Homo sapiens: one gene and its partner. The protein of the gene in region 2 purifies or fractionates together with the protein of the main gene of each other region. This does not show direct contact. Each region holds a gene or a part of one and is shown on either strand. Other genes may lie near its edges.

Evidence for each region.
Region 1: the proteins of DENND10 (region 2) and NMT2 purify together in Homo sapiens (affinity purification with mass spectrometry; one large-scale study listed by BioGRID and IntAct). This does not show direct contact.

What each region holds. Positions count from the first base shown.
Region 1 is NC_000010.11:15,109,510-15,113,329, forward strand, and holds part of NMT2 (glycylpeptide N-tetradecanoyltransferase 2), read right to left. Parts: intron 3,455-3,820; coding exon 3,287-3,454; intron 2,278-3,286; exon of another isoform or gene 2,019-2,277; intron 331-2,018; coding exon 193-330; intron 1-192.
Region 2 is NC_000010.11:119,117,613-119,121,432, forward strand, and holds part of DENND10 (DENN domain-containing protein 10), read left to right. Parts: coding exon 1-55; intron 56-2,728; coding exon 2,729-2,840; intron 2,841-3,820. UniProt on the Homo sapiens protein: Guanine nucleotide exchange factor (GEF) regulating homeostasis of late endocytic pathway, including endosomal positioning, maturation and secretion, possibly through activating Rab proteins such as RAB27A and RAB27B.

The DNA of each region.
Region 1 (3,820 bases), about 100 Mb from region 2:
GCAGTGAGCTGAGATCATGCCATTGCACTCCAGCCTGGGGGACAGAGCGAGACTTCATCTCAAAAAAATAAATAAATAAATAAATAAAATGAACAAAAATAAAATAAAGCTGTCTTAAGTCTAAGTGAAGCAAGTATGAAATTGTCTAGGTACATTTGTTGAGTTTACAAGGGCTATATCCATTTCACTTACCTTTTCAGAATCTGTACCTGGACACCTCCAATTGTACAGGTAATACTGCAAATTGCCATCTCCTATACCAAACTTGAGTTTTTCCAAGAATGTCTTATTTTCCATCAAATCCAGTGCATTGAATACATCAAATCCTTTCTGCCAATTTAAAAAAGATTTAAAATTTAAAACAAAGGACTAGTGTTTTCTGTATTACATATCTCAGTTTAACAATTCTACTAATAGCTCGAATATGCATTTCTAATAGGATTTAACGTCCGTGATATATAGCATAGGTTAAGAATTCAGGGCCGGATGCTGTGGCTCATGCCTATAATCCCAGCACTTTGGTAGGCTGAGGTGGGTGGATCACTTGAGGTCAGGAGTTCGAGACCAGCCTGACCAACATGGCGAAACCCCATCTCTACTAAAAATAACAAAAATAAGCCAGATGTGGTGGCGCACACCTGCAGTCCCAGCTACTCAGGAGGCTGAGGCAGGAGAACTGCTTGAGCCTGGGAGGTAGAGGTGGCAGTGAGCCGAGATTGTGCCACGGCACTCCAGCCTGAGCGACAGAGTGAGACTTTTTTTTTTTCTTTCTTTAAAAAGAGGAAGAATTCAGTTGAAAATTGTCTTATAAAACTAGCAGTGTGGCTGGATGTGGTGGCTCACGCCTGTAATCCCAGCACTTTGGGAGGCCAAGGTGGGAGGCTCACTGGAGCCCAGGAATTTGAAACCAGCCTGGGCATAGGCTGTAGGTATAGGTGTAGGTGTAGGTACAGGACATTGTCTCTACAAAAATAAAAAGATTGACTCGGCATGGTGGTGTGTGCCTGTGGACCCAGCTACACAGGAGGCTGAGGCAGGATTGCATAAGCCGAAGAGGTCGAGGCTGCAGTGAGCTGTGATTGTGCCAGTGCACTTAAACCTGAGCAACAGAGTGAGCGCCTGTCTCAAAAAACAAACAAACTATAGTGAATCCAATGAAGTCAGCATGAAAATTCAGAAACGCTGAATCCCAAAAATGTTAAAAATGTAGTATGATGGCTGTCACTGGCATAAAATTACTTATGAAGATTTCAGAAAATATTTTATTTATGTTTTATTTATTTATTTTTAAATTTTTTTGAGATGGAGTCTCACTCTGTCATCCAGGCTGGAATACAGTGGCATGATGTCGGCTCACTGCAACCTCCACCTCCCAGATTTAAGCAATTCTCCTGCCTCAAACTTCCTAGTAGCTGGCATTACAGGTGTGCACCTCCATGCCCAGCTAATTTCTTTGTATTTTTAGTAGAGACCGGGTTTCACCGTGTTGGCCAGGCTGGTCTTGAACTCCGACCTCAAGTGATCCACCTGCCTTGGCCTTCCAAAGTGCTGGGATTACAGGCATGAGCCACTGCACCCAGCCTCGTTCTTGTTTTAGAAGGGAACAGTTGTCAAGATGGTTTCATCTCCAGGATTATTAATTATTAGCCTTTCTAAGTCCTACCTTGGCTGAAGCTATTGCCCAGGGACCAAAGTTGTAAAGACTTTAAATAGTATGCAGGCCGGGCGTGGTGGCTCACGCCTGTAATCCCCGCACTTTGGGAGGCCGCAGCAGGTGGATCACCTGAGGTCAGGAGTTCGAGACCAGCCGGGTCAATATGATGAAACCCTGTCTCTACTAAAAATACAAAAATTAGCCAGGTGTGGTGGCACACACCTATAGTCCCAGCTACTCTGGAGGCTGAGACAAGAGAATCACTTGAACATGGGAAGCAGAGGTTGCAGTGAGCCGAGACTGTGCCACTGCACTCCAGCCTGGGTAACACAGCAAGACTCATCTCAAAAAAAAAAAAAAAAAAAAAAGTATAAAAAAATAGTATGTTTGCTTTGGGCTGATAATGGGAAATATATTTATGTAAAATTTTAATGGTAAAAAATTAAATTTCTTTAAAATGTCAGACAATAATACTATGCAAAATGTGATATAGAAGAAGCACTTTTTATTTTTATTTCTCAGGGTTTTTACCTTAAATAACTAATTACTGGCCATATTTGGGAAGTGTTGAAAAAAAGCAGACAATCTGAGGATGATGTTGACTTGGGGATCCAAAGGCACAGGTAAGAGATTTTTATTTTATTTTATTTTAATTAATTAATTAATTTGAGACAGGGTCTCACTCTGTGGCCCAGGCTGGAATGCAATGGTGCAATCTCGGCTCACTGCAACCGCCAACTCCCAGGTTCAAGTAATCCTCTTGCCTCAGCCTCCCGAGTAGCTGGGATTACAGGTGTGTGCTATCACACCCTGCTAATTTTTGTATTTTTAGTAGAGACAGGGTTTCACCATGTAGACTGGCTACAATTAAATTTTGAATTTCATTCCTTTAATTTTAAAATTCAGAGACTATTTGGTTGAATAAAAAAATTGCTGCTAGTTATTCACTCAACAAAAATATTCACTCATGTATTAATATTTTCCTTATATTACTTCCTAAGATATGGGCTTTATATATATATATATATATATATATATATATATATATATATATTTTTTTTTTTTTTTTTTTTTTTTTTTTTTTTTTTGAGACAGTTTCTGTCACCCAGGCTGGAGTGCAGTGGTGCAATCTCAGCTCCATTGCAACCTCTGCCTCCCAGGTTCAAGCAATTCTCCTGCCTCAGCCTCCCGAGTAGCTGGGATTACAGGCACACACCACGAAGCCTGGCTAACTTTTGTATTTTTAGTAGAGACGAGGTTTCACCATATTAACCAGGCTGGTCTTAAACTCCTAACCTCAGGTGATCCACCCATCTCGGCCTCCCAAAGTGTTGGGATTACAAGCCTGAGCCACCATGCCCAGCCTTATATATTCTTATATAAGGATTAAACATTTATAATTTGTACATTTTGTCTTTTTTGTTAAACTGCCATAAAATTAATGATGAAAATAGCCTCTAAAGTTTCAAAAGAAACTCTTATCAAAATTCTTCCTTTGACTGATGATCAATAGTTTTTTTAAAGTCTCGCATAAATTCCACCTGTGTGGAAGAAAACACAGTAAGATGTCTTCTATAGTTTGGCACAGACATTTGGAGAACCAAACGGCGTGAACAGGAAGGAGTGGCTTACCGATTTAGCCAGGATGAGCGCGTCGCTCATGAGGTCCAGCAGGGGCGTCTCTGTGTGGATGTTGTAGAATGAGTAGGCGGCTTTGAGGCTCTTGTGAGCAGGGTGGTGCATCACCGTGGAGGGGAGCGTATAGAAGCTCAGGAAATCAGTCAGTTTACCGTTGGGGCTCTAGGAGCAAAAGTGCTGTCAGACAGAGATCTCCTTGAACCAACTGCATACGTGCATTTCCACTAACTCTGTTCTCTCCCTTGCCCCAGAGAACGAAAAGCAGTAAGTCACACTTCTTTCTCGGCAGTCCAATTTGGGGCCCCTTATATTGTGCTGTGTAGAGGCCAAGAAGGGCCTGGAGTTGGGACTTCAGCCTAAGTGCCCATTGGTGATTTGCACAAAGTTCTTAGGAAGCAGAATGTCATGCCTGTAATCCCAGCACTTTGGGAGGATGAGGCGTGTGGATCATGAGGTCAGGAGTTCGAGACCAGCCTGACCAACATGGTGAAACCCCATCTCTACTAAAGATATGAAAACTTAGCCAGG
Region 2 (3,820 bases):
TTCCTTAGTAAGGATTTTGATGCCCGAAAGGCCTACCTGGCTGGCTCCATCAAAGGTAAGAAGGGAAAAAACAGGCCAGGGACGGTGGCTCACGCCTGTAATCCCAACACTTTGGGAGGCCAAGGCGGGTGGATCACGAGGTCAGGAGATCGAGACCATCCTGGTTAACATGGTGAAACCTCGTCTCCACTAAAAATACAAAAAATTAGCCGGGCGTGGTGGCACCCGCCTGTGATCCCAGCTACTCGGGAGGCTGAGGCAGGAGAATCAGTTGAACCTGGAAGGCGGAGGTTGCAGTGAGCCGAGATTGTGCCACTGCACTCCGGCCTGGGCAACAGACGAGACTCCGTCTCAAAAAAAAAACAAAAAACAAAAAAAAGAAGGTAAAAACAAAACCCTTCCAACAACAAAATCCCCAAGCCAAAAACAGTCTCATTAGATCCTATTGTGCCTAATAGAATAATTACATAATTAGATTATCTAATTAGAATTATCTAGTTATTAGATAATTCTAATCCTTCCATACGTTATTTTCATTTACATATTTTTCATATCATTTGTACACAAGAGGGTGCCTTTAACCCCCGTATTTCCTTATTGAGTTAGAATTCTCTCAGAGGAAAACAGGTTTTTGTGGTGTTTGTTTCCATATTATTCTATTGGCTATTTTAGAAATATTTTCTCGCTGGTGGGCTGAATTTTGTGCCTCGAGGTCTTCATGGATTACATTTCTTTTCTTAGATCTTAGCAGTTATCTCTGTCATCTGAAGAGCCCAAGGCCTTGACCACAAACTCCTAATTTAAGTTCCAGCTGGAAAATCCAAAATGCAGACAGCTCAGGCCTAAGCCACAGACTTCAGGGTCCCTGAGCAGGAGGCGAGGGGAACTCTGAAGGCGAGGCTGCCCTCTGTCATGTCCTCCCATGGTGCCCATCTGTCTTTCCTTTTGATCCCGCTGTTCTTTGAATTTTCTCAGCATCCCTGTTGAGGTGGTAGGTGTTTGTCAGGCTAACTTAAGGACTTAAGTAATTATACTGGGGGACATGGGGGAGTTAATAGACTTTTTTTTTTCCTTTTGAGACAGGGTCTTGCTTTGTTACTGAGGCTGAAGTGCAGTGGTACAATTACGGCTCACTGTAGCCTTAACTTCCTGGGCTCAAGCAATCCTTCCACCTCAGCCTCCCGAGTAGCTGGGACTACAGGTGCACACCACCATGCCCAGCTAATTTTTTTTTTTTTTTTTTTTTTTGAGTCAAGAGTCTCACTGTGTCACCCAGGCTGGAGTGCAGTGGCACAATCTCAGCTCACTGCAACCTTTGCCTCCCAGGTTCAAGTGATTCTCGTGCCTCAGCCTCCCAAGTAGCTGGGACTACAGGCACCTGCCACCACACCCAGCTAATTTTTTTTTTTTTTTTCTTTGAGATGGAGTTTTGCTCCAACAAGTGTTGCCTAGGCTGGGTGGCGCGATCTTGGCTCACCGCATCCTCCGCCTCCTGGGTTCAAGTGCCTCAGCCTCCCAAGTAGCTGGGATTACAGGCATGTGCCACCACGCCTGCCTAATTGTGTATTTTTAGTACAGATGGGGTTTCTCCATGTTGGTCAGGCTGGTCTCGAACTCCTGACCTCAGGTGATCCGTCTGCCTCGGCCTCCCAAAGTGCTAGGATTCCAGGCATGAGCTTCCGCGCCCGGCCGCTAATTTTTGTATTTTTAGTAGAGATGGGGTTTCACCATTTTGGCCAGGCTGGTCTCGAACTCCTGACCTCAGGTTATCCACCCGCCTCGGCCTCCCAAAGTGCTGGAATTACAGGTGTGAACCACTGTGCCCAGCCTAATTTTGTATTTTTGGTAGAGATGGGGTTGCACCATGGTGGCCAGGCTGGTGTCAAACTCCTGACCTCAGATGACCTGCCTGCTTAGGCCTCCCAAAGCGCTGGGATTACAGTGTGAGACACTGTGCCCAGCCCCAGCTAATTTTTAAACATTTTTTAGAGACAGTCTCCCTGTGTTGCCCAGGCTGGTCTCAAACTCCTGGGCTCAAGTGATCCTCCCACCTTGGCCTCCCAAAGTGTTGGTATTACAGACATGAGTCACCCTGCACCTGGCAGACATTTTTTTTTTTTTTTTTAAATCAGGAAGTTTTAATGATACAGAAAGATGCTGGTTCCCTTCACATCAGTTGTTTCAGTTTTTTGTGAGTCTAGCTTCCTCTATGCATCCCATCATAGAGTCCCTTGCGGGGCAGAGCACACGTCCTGGGAAGCTGACATAGGATAGATCTACTCTTCCACCAAATAAAGTGTTTGTATGCTTTACAACATTTGCCTAAATTCTCTGTATTAAAAATAATTTTGTACGTCAGGTGCTGTGACTCACACCTGTAATCCCAACACTTTGGGAGGCTGAGGTGGGTGGATCACTTGAGGTCAGGAGTTCGAGATTAGCCTGGCCAACATGGTGAAACCCCGTCTCTACTAAAAATACAAATATTAGCCAGGTGTGGTGGTGTGTGCCTGTAATCCCAGCTACTCGGGAAGCTGAAGCAGGAGAATCGCTTGAGCCCAGGAGGCAGAGGTTGCGGTGAGCAACTATCTTGCCACTGCATTCCAGCCTGGGTGACAGAGTGAGACTCGGTCTCAAAAAAAAAAGAAAAAAGAAAAAAAGAAAAAAAAATCTTTATTTCTTTGCATGATGTGTAATGCAGTAACATTACAATTTCTCTTTTTTGAAGACATTGTATCTCAGTTTGGAATGGAAACTGTTATCTTACACACAGCACTGATGCTAAAGAAAAGAATTGTGGTGTATCACCCCAAGATAGAAGCGGTCCAGGAGTTCACCAGGTATCACCTCTAATTATAAAAAAGTGTTAACTTTGTTGGCAGACAGTTCGCAGCACTAGATGTTACTGTGTGCTCTGCTGTGTTGCACATTTGCTATAAATAGCATGTGGTGAAATACCACCTTTGGTCTGAAGTTTCTGTTTAGCTCTAGTAGTTCAAGGTTACTGATTTGGACTATTTATGACTATTTTAGAGCAGGGGATTAGCAAACTTTTCCTTGCCAGACAGTAAATATTTTAGGTTTGTGAGCCATATGGTCACTGCCCCAACTACTCAACTGCCTAGGTAGCACAAAAGCAACCATGGAGGACACGTACATAAATGACTCAGCATGGCTGTGGTCAATGAAATTTTATTTTCAAGGACAGGCAGCTAGGCTGTGGGCCATAGTTTGCTGACCCGTTTCAGGTAAATTGTTCCTTCTGTTCAGTTTTATCAAAGACTCTTTTTTTTTTCTTGTTTTAATTAAAAAGTTTTAGAGCAGGACAAAGACTCTTACTTTGATAGTACATATAGATTTTTTAAATTTTATTTTCATTTTTAGTAGAGATGGGGTCTTGCTGTGTTGCCCAGGGTGGTCTCAAACTCATAGGCTCCAGTGATCCTCATGCCTTGGCCTCCCAAAGTGCTGGAATTACGGGTGTGAGCCACTGTGCCCGGCCAAAATAAATGTAGATTTTGTTGTTGTTAATAATTTTTTTGCCAGGAGGGTCAGTTCAGGGCCAGGAGGTGCCTGCCAGGCCCTGTCCCCTCTAACAGCTCCCCCACCTGCCATACAGATTTTTAAAGATTTTTTGTTTACTAAATCTAACTTGTTATTAGGTCCTTTTAAATTTTTTTCATTTTTATTTTTTTTATATTTTTTGTCGAGATGGGGTTTCTGGGGTCTCACTATGTTGGCCAGGCTGGTCTCGATGTCCTAGGCTCAAGTGATTCTCCTGCCTCCGTTGAGATGATTACAGACATGAACCACCACACCC